3 linked regions of the Homo sapiens genome follow. The protein of the gene in region 3 purifies or fractionates together with the protein of the main gene of each other region. This does not show direct contact. Each region holds a gene or a part of one and is shown on either strand. Other genes may lie near its edges. The genes, in order: BRICD5, SLMAP and STRIP1.

What was found.
Region 1: the proteins of STRIP1 (region 3) and BRICD5 purify together in Homo sapiens (co-immunoprecipitation; one large-scale study listed by IntAct). This does not show direct contact.
Region 2: the proteins of STRIP1 (region 3) and SLMAP purify together in Homo sapiens (affinity purification with mass spectrometry; 4 studies listed by BioGRID and IntAct, with this or other methods). This does not show direct contact.

What each region holds. Positions count from the first base shown.
Region 1 is NC_000016.10:2,208,764-2,212,510, reverse strand, and holds BRICD5 (BRICHOS domain-containing protein 5), read left to right. Parts: upstream 1-1,647; 5' UTR 1,648-1,677; coding exon 1,678-1,728; exon of another isoform or gene 1,729-1,817; coding exon of another isoform or gene 1,818-1,860; coding exon 1,861-1,989; intron 1,990-2,229; coding exon 2,230-2,385; coding exon of another isoform or gene 2,386-2,459; coding exon 2,460-2,561; intron 2,562-2,804; coding exon 2,805-2,958; coding exon of another isoform or gene 2,959-3,054; coding exon 3,055-3,149; 3' UTR 3,150-3,258; downstream 3,259-3,747. Other genes in the region: MLST8 (target of rapamycin complex subunit LST8), read right to left, coding at 3,634-3,747.
Region 2 is NC_000003.12:57,906,284-57,909,930, forward strand, and holds part of SLMAP (sarcolemmal membrane-associated protein), read left to right. Parts: intron 1-1,600; coding exon 1,601-1,723; intron 1,724-2,771; coding exon of another isoform or gene 2,772-2,792; coding exon 2,793-2,867; intron 2,868-3,647. UniProt on the Homo sapiens protein: Associates with the striatin-interacting phosphatase and kinase (STRIPAK) core complex, forming the extended (SIKE1:SLMAP)STRIPAK complex.
Region 3 is NC_000001.11:110,041,053-110,044,699, forward strand, and holds part of STRIP1 (striatin-interacting protein 1), read left to right. Parts: intron 1-483; coding exon 484-590; intron 591-681; coding exon 682-809; intron 810-2,035; coding exon 2,036-2,218; intron 2,219-2,586; coding exon 2,587-2,804; intron 2,805-3,266; coding exon of another isoform or gene 3,267-3,285; exon of another isoform or gene 3,286-3,635; intron 3,636-3,647. UniProt on the Homo sapiens protein: Plays a role in the regulation of cell morphology and cytoskeletal organization. Required in the cortical actin filament dynamics and cell shape. Part of the striatin-interacting phosphatase and kinase (STRIPAK) complexes.

The sequences.
Region 1 (3,747 bases), on a different chromosome or scaffold from region 3:
CGCCAAGGTTCTGGGCGGGGCTCCAGCCTCTCCTGCCTGCTCCTTGGCTCTGCTGACCTTTCACAGGCCTGACAGCAGACTCAGCAGGGCCATCCCGGGATGCTGCACCTTCTGGCTGGCTCCCTACCAGCGCCTTTCCCTGTACCTGGCAGCTTCTCTCTTGGCCCCACAGTCACAGCACTCCACTTGGTCACAAAGACTTCAGAGCAATAAGAGGCGTCCTGAGCCTTCAGCACCTCCCAGGCCTGGGATATCGGGTTCAGAGGGTGCTGCAGAGCAGCATGAGGGTGGCTCCACCCATGAGGCTGGTGACACTGACGCTGGCTTGGCTAAGTTGGCTCAAGCCGGGTCTGGCCTGACAGGGTGCAGTCACACCAGGAGCGCATGGCAGATGCAGCCTCAGTGATGCCTCTCTTGCCGGGTAGGGGCTGGGAGTCCCCGTGCATCCTGTCTCTGGCCCATGAGGGGCTGCAGCACTGTGGGCGCCAGAGCACAGATTAAACTCTCAAACCCACACTGGCTCAGGTGTCCTTGCTCTCACCTTGCATTGGCCCGGGTGATGCCGTCTCACCACGGGTGGGAGGACTCAAAGTAGATGGGTAACTGGGGTTCCAACTCCAGAGCTGGAATGCCAACTGCCCACTCCCAGCCTGGTTCAGAGGAAGATGTTTTGAAGAATGAGGGAAAGCCAGGCACAAAGGGAAGCCAGGGAAGCAAAGGGCCCTGGAGTGAAGCTGGTGGGCTGCCGTGTCAGAGCGCCCAGGGCAGGGAGCAGAGCTCAGAAGTAATGCTGGCCCGGGCGCAGTGGCTCACACCCGTAATCCCAACGCTTTGGAAGGCTGAGGCAGGTGGATTACTTGAGATCAGGAGTTCAAGACCAGCCTGGCCAAAATGGTGAAAACCCATCTCTACTAAAAATACAAAAATTAGCGGGACTTGGTGGCATGTATCTGTAATCCCAGCTACTAGGGAGGCTGAGGCATGAGAATTGTGTGAACCCGGGAGGCAGAGGTTGCAGTGAGCTGAGATCACGCCACTGCACTCCAGCCTGGGGGACACAGCGAGACTCCGTCTCAAAAAAAAAAAAGTTGGGCTAGGCGGGCCCCCGAGGCTGGCCTGACTGTCCCAGGGGCACAGGCTCCAGCAGGCTGCCTGTCTGTGGTCCAGGCTTCAGGAACCCCCGGTCTTGGGTGTGCGGGGGCTGGGAAGTGGCTGGGGGTGCACAGTCCCACACCTGTCATTCACTGAACAGGCACGTATTGACAGCTTGTGGCGTGTCAGGCCCTGTGCCCAACTCTGGGAGTCAAGGATAACCTGACAGACTCAGGCCACTTTAGGAAAACGAAATCCACCCCAACCACACTTAGCGAGTCACCCTGGCCGGGCCTGGGCTGCCCTCCAGTCGGTCAGCCGGACTGGATTTCCACGCGGCCGAGCCCTACGCCTCCCAGACCCTGAGCTCCAGTCTGCACAGGCCAGGTGTCTGGAGCCGGGCCTGGTGACAGGCATCCCCCAGGTGGGAGGAGGGGCTGTCCTGGCTCTGACCTGGATATCAGATCCAGAGCTGAGGGGGAGGCGCAGGGTCAGGAGGGGAGGGGTTCTGTTCTGAGTTTCCCCTGGCCAAGGCTGCAGACAAGGGACGCAGACAATCGGCACATTGTGAGCAGGGGCTGCAGGATGGAACCAGCAAGCTGCTGTGCTGAGCGCCCCAAACCTGGGCCTACAGGGGTGAGTGCCTCCCGTTACTCCTGCAGCAAGGACCCAGGGGGTGCCCCAGGCCACCCAGCCCCTCCCTTCCCCAGCCCACTTGCTCCCTGATGTCTAACCCTCATGACCCTTCTGACCCTGATGCACGCCCAGGTGAAGACCAAGCCCTCCTGCGGGGGCTGGAGAGCCGTGAGCCTGCTCCTGCTGCTGCTGCTGCTGGTGCTGGCCGCTGTGGGGGTTGTGGCTGGAGGGCTTCTTGGCTCTGCTCAGGGCCCTCCCAAGGTGAGCCCCTCCTCAGCACCAGGGACATGGACAGTGGAAAGGGAGAAGGGAAGCTGGCATATCCCAGCCTCCAGCAGAGCAAGGGTGCGGAGCAGGCAGTGACACCACCTAGGAGCAGACAGCCAGAGGACCAAGGGGTGGAAGGGCCCACTCAGGGGTGTCAGGAGTCCTGCAGCCCAGAGCTGGAGGCTGTGCTGGGGTTGCACAGCTGCCCGGCTGAACTCCAACTCCCACTGCCAGCCAAGGCTGCAGACGCTGCGAATGACCCTCCCGAGCCCCCACATGCCCCGGCCCAACCAAACCATCCTGGTGGACGTGGCCCGGAACGCGGCGACCATCACAGTGACCCCACCTCAGAGCAACCACAGCTGGGCGGTGCTGTTCGACGGGCAGAGCGTGAGTGGGCAGGGAGGGGTCACCCTGGCAGGTGTCGGTCTGGGGGGCCCCGCCTCACCCCCCTGCCTCCCCAGGGCTGCATCTGTTACCGCCCTGAGGAGCACCAGGTCTGCTTCCTCCGCCTGATGGAGGACAGTGATCGGGAGACCCTGCGGCTGCTGGTGGATACCTCCAAGGTGAGCCGTCCTGCTGGGCGCAGGCCCGGGCCAGGGGCTAGACAAAGGGTCCTGTGTGCAGCCCAGTACGGGACAGGCTGGAGCTGTGGTTTCAGGGAACAGGAAGCTCTCTCCGCCCTAAGCCCAGGCTGCTGACAAGAGCTGAGGGTGGGGACATCACTGGGGGTTGGAGGGTACCCGGCCCTGCCAAGCCAGGAGCAGGGAGCAGCCCTGTCCCACCGCCCACCAGAGCCTTCTCAACAGGTCCAAGAGGCTTGGGTCCCCAGCCAGGACACCCACCACACCCAGGAGCTGCTGGCAGTGCAGGGGAGCCTCGAAGTGGACCCCGCCCAGGCGGGGGCTTTGGTGCAGCGCCTGTGCATGAGGACCCCCATCTACTGGGCCCGGCGAGCAGAGGGTGAGTCAGGACCGCTGTGGGGGAAGGCCAGGCCCTCGGGATGGTTTGAGGAGCTGGGGGCGGAGCCCTTGGAGATTCACGGCACCCTCGCCACAGGGCCCCGGAGACAGCGGCTGATTTATCTCTGCATCGACATCTGCTTCCCGAGCAACATCTGCGTGTCGGTCTGCTTTTATTACCTCCCAGACTGAGCCCCCGACCTGGCCCAGCCTGGCCCGTCCCCAATCCAGTGGGCTGGCCAGGCCACCTGCACCAGGGAGGACAGCTGCTGGCAGGGACTAATAAACCCTTCCACCTGGCCATGGTGGTGGTGTTCTCTATGGACCGAGGCCCTGAAACGCGGGCAGGGAGGGGCAGAGAACACACTAGCTTGGGGGTGGGCACCAGCCTCAGACCCCTCAGCAGCTTTGGGCCCTCGGCCGACTTTCCCAGGCAGTGCAGGCTAGCCCAGTCCAGGAGTGTGCAGCCTGGCTTGGGTCGAGCTCTGTCACATCTGGATAAGCAACTGGGGGCTGAGAGTCCCAGGGCAGCCTGGCCCAGCAGGTCAAGGCGCCACAGGGGGCCATCAGGTCCAGCTGGCGCAGGCCGGCAGGGGAGGGTCTGCTCTGACCTGGGTGCTGCATGGGTCCCTCCAGCTGCCACCACCTGCACCAGGCAGTCCCGAGGGGTCACAGGCTAGCCCAGCACACTGTCATTGAAGGCCAGGCAGACAACAGCCTTCTGGTGGCCGCCATACTCTCTCTTGATCTCTCCAGTCTCCACACACCAGAGCCGGGCCAGGTTGTCCGA
Region 2 (3,647 bases), on a different chromosome or scaffold from region 3:
AGAATCAAATTTTTTTCTTTTTTTTTCTTTTTTTTTTTTTTTTTTTTTTAGAGACACAGTCACTCTCTGTCGCCCAGGCTGGAGTGCAGTGGCGCGATCTTGGCTCATTGCCACCTCTGCCTCCCAGGTTCAAGCAATTCTCGTGCCTCAGCCTCCTGAGTAGCTGGGATTACAGGCGCGCACCACCACGCCCAGCTAATTTTTAGTATTTTTAGTAGAGACGGGGTTTCCACATGTTGCCCAGGCTGGTCTCAAACTCCTGACCTCAAGTGATCTGCCTGCCTCAGCCTCCCAGAGTGCTAGGATTACAGGCATGAACCACCGCGCCTAGGCCAGAATACAATTTTTCTAGAGAGAAAAATAGGATATAATCTATGAATATGAAAAAAAAATATATATATATATATATATATATATAATTTCCAAAACCTATTGTAATTGTATTGTGAAAGTTATTCTTAGCTCTTTTTTGATGAATTGAAGTTATTATGCTGAGGTACTTATAAACCAAGGTGATACTCAAATAGAATTCATTAGAACAATATGGCTTACCTGATGATATATTTATTTCAGGCAGTGTTCAGTAGCAGAAGGTTTTAAAAAATTAAAAAGCAGAATGATTGGAGAGGAAGGAGTTTAGGGGAAGGGGCATATTTGAAATAGAATGCTGGATTTAATTTATTTCGGTAAAACCACTTAGGTTACATCATTTAATATATTCAGCAGATTTTTGTTGTTGTTGCGGTTTTTTTTTTTCTTTTTGATACAGAGTCTCACTCTGTTGCCCAGGCTGGAGCGCAGTGGCGCGATCTCGGCTCACTGCAACGTCTGCCTCTTGTGTTCAAGCAGTTCTCCTGCCTCAGCCTCCCAAGTAGCTGGGACTACTGGCACCTGCCACCACGCCTGGCTAATTTTTTGTGTTTTTAGTAGAGACGGGGTTTCACCGTATTAGCCAGGATGGTCTCGATCTCCTGACCTCGTGATCCGCCTGCCTCAGCCTCCCAAAGTGCTGGGATTACAGGCATGAGCCACCACGCCCAGCTCAGATATTTGTTATATGTGCGTGTTGGGGAAATGATGATGACAAAGTAGGCTCAGTAGAGCTTTCAGCCTAGTTTTTATTTTGTGTTCCACAACTAGGGTAATTGTGCTAAAATTTAGCTGTTACTTGAAGAAAAGTTTCTTTTTGTTTTCCATATCCAGTTAAGTTCCAAGTGAAATTTTTCTGACTGGTTATCAAGAAATTTCAAAATTGATGAAGAAGTATAGCATTTTGCTCATCTCACTGAATTTCAAGTCTTAATAAGCAATGAGTTATAATCTGTCACTGTCTGTTTATTTTGATGCTAGAATTGTGAATATATAATTTATGTTAATATATTTTTATAATGTCATCACCATGATTACTAATATATATAACTGTATTTGTATTTTCTCCCAACTACTAAAATGCTTACTATAATTTGCTTCTAAGTTTTATTTAACTCAGTTGTTCTATGTTGTTTATGCATGTGCAAACATGAGAGAGATTACCAGTCTTTTATTGTAGATTATAGTGTGATACTAACTCTTGCTTTTAAAATAAACATGTTTTTGTCAGATGACTTGCAGGGTGCACAGTCAGAAATTGAGGCAAAGCAAGAAATACAGCATCTTCGAAAGGAATTGATCGAAGCCCAGGAGCTAGCTAGAACAAGTAAACAAAAATGCTTTGAACTTCAAGGTGAGATCAAGATTACTTTGGTTCTTTAGGGATGTGTGGAGGCAGCACAATATAATTGGGTGGCCCCAAACTTGGAGTCCGGAGGCATGTTCCAGATTCACAACTTTATGAGATATGTGATCTTGGTATATTTACTTGACCTCTCTAAACTTGTGTTTCAGGTCAGTAAAATGAGGAGAGTTACAGTTGCTCTACCTTCACACTGTTGATGTGAAAATCAAGTAAGATCTTTACTAACTGAAAGATCTTAATAGTTAATTGCATATTAAGTACAACAGAAGGAAAACTCAAATTTCTAAATTTTTATTATGCCTAATGTTAGCTAATGTCCTGGCCACATTCTTTTCTAGTAGCTCACTTATCTATAGGTCATAAGCCAGTGGAGTCTGTGCAGTTCCCTAGAGCTTACATTTCTGTATCATTCATAGTAACTACCTGGTTGCAGACAATTAGTATCTCAAAGAGTCTTAAAATGAGAAAGGGAATGACTTCTGGAGCCCTCATGTTCTCCAAGATGGCCTTCCTGCCTAGTAGGAAGATTTACATCCCAGGAGGGAACTAGGAACTTCTTGTTACTACTTCTTTCCTTTCCTAATTCTCAAAGAAATTAGAATTGGTATTCACTTAACTTGAACCTTTTGGAGGATCCAGGCTAATATATTAAATTACAATGAAAAAATATTTGGTAAATAGCAATTATTTAGTTTAGTGTTTACTATGTGCTTGACAGTAAATATAAGAATTTTAAGTCTTTTTAAAAAATTAAGTTCAAAATGCTGATTAACAATTATCAAGACTGTTTCTCATGTTAAGAAAAGCACATATTGTCTTGGTGATACCAGGTCCAGAAAACTCCACTACTCAGTTGAATAGATTTATTACTTACTACAGTTCTGTGCTCCTAAAATCTTTAAACTAACTGCTAATACTGATAATACTTACTGCCTAACTTTTGTTTCTTTCAATAATCTTTTAGGAGAGAATTTTAAAAGAAATTTTCAGCTGCTCAACTCTGAGTACTTTCATTAATTCACAAAACTATTAATAGATACTGTGTTTTTACTTTTAGCTCTTTTGGAAGAAGAAAGAAAAGCCTATCGAAATCAAGTTGAGGAATCCACTAAACAAATACAGGTTCTTCAAGGTATGGAAGACCCCAAGGCTCTTTGAGATTGTTATTGTGTGTTTGTTTTTAGTGATTCAAAAGGAATGGAGGCCAGGCGCAGTGGCTCATGCCTGCAATCCCAGCATTTGGGAGGCCGAGAAGGGTGGATCTCCTGAGGTCAGGAATTCGAGAGCAGTGTGGCCAACATGGTGAACCCCTGTCTCCACTAAAAATACAAAAATTAGCTGGGCATGGTGGTGCATGCCTGTAATCCCAGCTTCTCGGGAGGCTGAGGCAGGAGAATTGCTTGAACCTGGGAGGTGGAGGTTTCAGTGAGCTGGGATTGCACCACTGCACTCCAGCCTGGGTGACAGAGCAAGACTCCATCTCAGAAAAAAAAAAAAAAATGAAATGGAAAGTAAGAAGGCAGAGAGTCCCCATTTTTCATGGCTTTGATTCTCTAGAACCTCACATTTCAACACGGCTCTTGGTGGAGCTTTATTTATTTATTTGTTTTTGAGACAGAGTTTCGCTCTTGTTGCCCAGGCTGGAGTACAATGGCGCGGTCTCACCTTACTGCAACCTCCGCCTCCCAGGTTCAAGCAATTCTCCTGCCTCAGCCTCCTGAGTAGCTGGGATTACAGGCATGCGCCACCACACCCAGCTAATTTTGTATTTTTAGTAGAGATGGGGTTTCTCCATGTTGGTCAGGCTGATCTCAAACTCCCAACCTCAGGTGATCCACCAATCTTGGCCTCCCAAAGTGCTGGGATTACAGGTGTGAGCCACTGCGCCTGGCCTATTTTTTTTTTTTTTTTA
Region 3 (3,647 bases):
CTTGATGCTCATCTTCATTGGGTTAGACCTGACAGCTTCCTAATGTTTCATGGCTGCCCAGGAGCTCACAGCAACTGCTGACCACCAAGATCACCCCTCAGTTTTTGAGGGTTGAAATCTGGCTCTTTTTATGAATTTGGAAGTTTTTAGACTAGGTGGTTGTAGTGTTGCCTCCCGGGTGTTAGGATCCCTGGGCGTCACCTCTCAGCTCCTGCTTTCCATTTCCTCATCATAAACCCTGTTTTTGTTCTCACTGTGACCCTGTTCTGCTTTGACCCTACAGCTCGCTACCACCTCTGTGGTTTTTTTCTTTTCAGGAAGCTTAGGGTGGTAAATGCTTTTGGCCATTCTTGTTCATACTCATTTATTCAGATACCATTTATTAATAGTAAGCCCCTGCTTTGTGTAAGCACTTTGTTAGACACTAGGGTGCTCCTTTGACCCCCCCATCCCACTCCATTGTGAGCTGGCTCTTGTCCTCAGGGTCCTGCTCAACATCATGTACCTGATAGTGGAGACCGTTCATCAGGAGTGTGAGGGTGACAAGGCTGAGTGGAGGACCATGCGGCAGACCTTCAGAGCCGAGCTGGGTAGGACCCTGGGGATCCTCTCTAGAGGCCCTGCCTGGAAGCTGAGGCGGAAGGCTTTGGGAGGGTCCTGATACCTTTGTGTCACCTCCAGGCTCCCCGCTGTACAACAATGAGCCATTTGCCATCATGCTGTTTGGGATGGTGACCAAATTTTGCAGTGGTCACGCCCCTCACTTTCCCATGAAGAAAGTTCTCTTGCTGCTCTGGAAGACAGTATTGGTGAGCACCTCCTTGGAGGAGGAGAACGGTGCTATGGGATGGGCAGTAGGGAGACTGTTCCTTGAATATCCTTTTGAATATTGAATTATGTGACTGTAAAACTGCTTTGGTAAAAAAAATTATTTAAAAAGCTGCTAAAAGGAGATGACAAAAGAAGGGCCACTATTGTCCCATTGCAGCCAACGAGGACATAGGCCTTGAGTCAGAGTAGGCTGTTGGCTCTCTGACCCCGGAAGCTGTTTTCTGTCATAGAACAGCTCTCCCCCAGACAAGTTGCCTCTCAGCAAGCAGCTCTGGACCTGGAGTTTGTAAAGGGATTTGAGGCAAAGTTACAGCTGATGTAATTGGGGCCCTGGTTGGATATCACTTAAAGGGGCAAGAGTGAGCCCTGAGCCAGCCTCCATTTTCTTCAGGGTATGGTGTCAGCCCGACTCTGTGTCTAGGTAGGGAGGGACTGGGTGCCAGAGTGGGCCGTCCAGCACACTGGGCTTGGAGCGTTGTTAGCAGCCAGGCCATGCCAGGAGGCCTTCCCAGGAGGAGTGACATGGGGAGGCGGTGGAGGTGAGTTGGGCCTCTGCTACACTGGGGCTCATCCTTCCTTTCAGAATGGGTCAACTCTGGAGCCAGGGCTCAGTAAGTATAGGATTTCTTAAAAGTCATTGACACATTTTATCTTGGCCACACATTCTGTTCTTCATAAAGCCTTGCTAAGGCTAGAGAGGAAAGCTGAATTGCTCAGAAACAGTAAAACTAAGCAGTCTAAAGCTGGATGTTGCTGGCGTTTCTGCTTCTTGGGAGATGTTTAGATGAAGCTTTTTTTCTTCTTCTAAAGTTGAGCAACCAACAGTATTTCTAATTTGACTTTGAAAGACTTGCATGTACAACTTGTGAAACATGAGTCTCACCAACTTTTCTAGGAACTTGCAGGGTTAGGCTCTTTGCTTCTTTTTAAATTGAAGAGTATGTCATAGGTGCAGAGTTAGTGTATCTGCACTAGGGTCAGTCAGCCTGCATCTCCACTCTTTCCTTGTTCCTTTTTCTCCTTTCCCTTGCGGATGTCACGGAATTCTCCTTGGGAGTGGCTTCAGTCCATTGTTCAGGAGTTGCCTGGGTCTCTATAAAGACATGGGTCATGATGTCATGAATGTTTCTGAGCCTGACACAATGGTCAGGGGCCAGCCTGTGGACACATTGACCCTGGCTCTGCTTCCCTGTCTGTGATGCAGTGCACGCTAGGCGGCTTTGAGGAGCTGCAGAGCATGAAGGCTGAGAAGCGCAGCATCCTGGGCCTCCCCCCGCTTCCTGAGGACAGCATCAAAGTGATTCGCAACATGAGAGCAGCCTCTCCACCAGCATCTGCTTCAGACTTGATTGAGCAGCAGCAGAAACGGGGCCGCCGAGAGCACAAGGTGAGGACGACAGAGGTCCCTGTGACTCCTGAGGGCCCTCAAGGTGCATGCTTGCAGCAGCACAGTCCTTGGAGGAGCAGGGCTGCTGGAAATGATCTCTGATCAGCCAGTCAGAATCATGCCTCCACAGCGAGGATACTTTGTCCCCAGCTCTGGTCCAGTGTATGGTGAGTGCTCAGCACGTGGTGCTTTTGAGGGACTGGAGCAAGAAGTAGTTGATGGTTTGGCCCCCGTCTTGACTCCCACTGTGGTTTTTCCACTGTTCTTGCCTCTACTGGACACCTGTATGTGCTGTGTCTCCTCTGGCTGCACTTCCCTGGTCTGCGTCCTCAGTTGGCTCTTGTCTCATCTCCCTTCCCTGGTTTCAGGCTCTGATAAAGCAGGACAACCTAGATGCCTTCAACGAGCGGGATCCCTACAAGGCTGATGACTCTCGAGAAGAGGAAGAGGAGAATGATGATGACAACAGTCTGGAGGGGGAGACGTTTCCCCTGGAACGGGATGAAGTGATGCCTCCCCCGCTACAGCACCCACAGACTGACAGGCTGACTTGCCCCAAAGGGCTCCCGTGGGCTCCCAAGGTCAGGTGAGTCTCAGACCTCCAGAGCACTCATAGTTCCTGAGGCAGAGCCCTCACACCCTCAGGCCTGCCACCTGGCCTGTGTCACCATGTGTGGTCCTCTGCAGGGCAGGCTGACCGTGGCTCTGGGATGAGGCTCTCTTAAAGCACCCTGTGCTGTCCTGAGGGTCTCAGGGAGGCCGGCCTTGCTGGTCTCACACAACATGGCCCTCATGTGGCTACTGAGGCAGTAATTGGAGTTAGCTCTTGGTTAGATGTGCTAGTGAAGGGGGATAGGAAACAAATAAAAACAAAAGCATTTAAGCAAACATGTCTCCACCCATCCTGGGGTTGTGTATGGTTTTTAACAAAAATGATAGATTAAGGAAGAGTTTCTTTAGAGCCATAATGAAAATGTTTGAGATATATGTGGGTAAATCGATGGATGGGACGGTACCTGGAGATATATAAATGGTGTCTGTTTGATAGGCAGCAGCTTAAGAAATAGATGAACATGTGAGAGGATATAGAAGTCGCTTTCTTGATCCAGGTAAAGCCTCAGTTTTCAGTGATCTGTGAAGGGAATGCAAAACAGATCATCAGAAAATGCAAGGTATGCTGATTGTTTGGGATAGGAAAAGTGAGCTATATGAAAAATCAGTAGCCTATAGCTTTAATTGTTTAAAAGTTTTAATATTTAAGAAAGTCTGTTGACAAACTTGTTCATACTATCTGAATAAAGCATGTTTTTAAGTTTGATATATCCCTTTAATTTTATGAATAAACTAGTTAACATGTATTTCCAGGTTACTGATCCAGCAAAATTATAAGAAACATTAAAATTCTCTGAAAATTTCAGTTTTTTCCCTT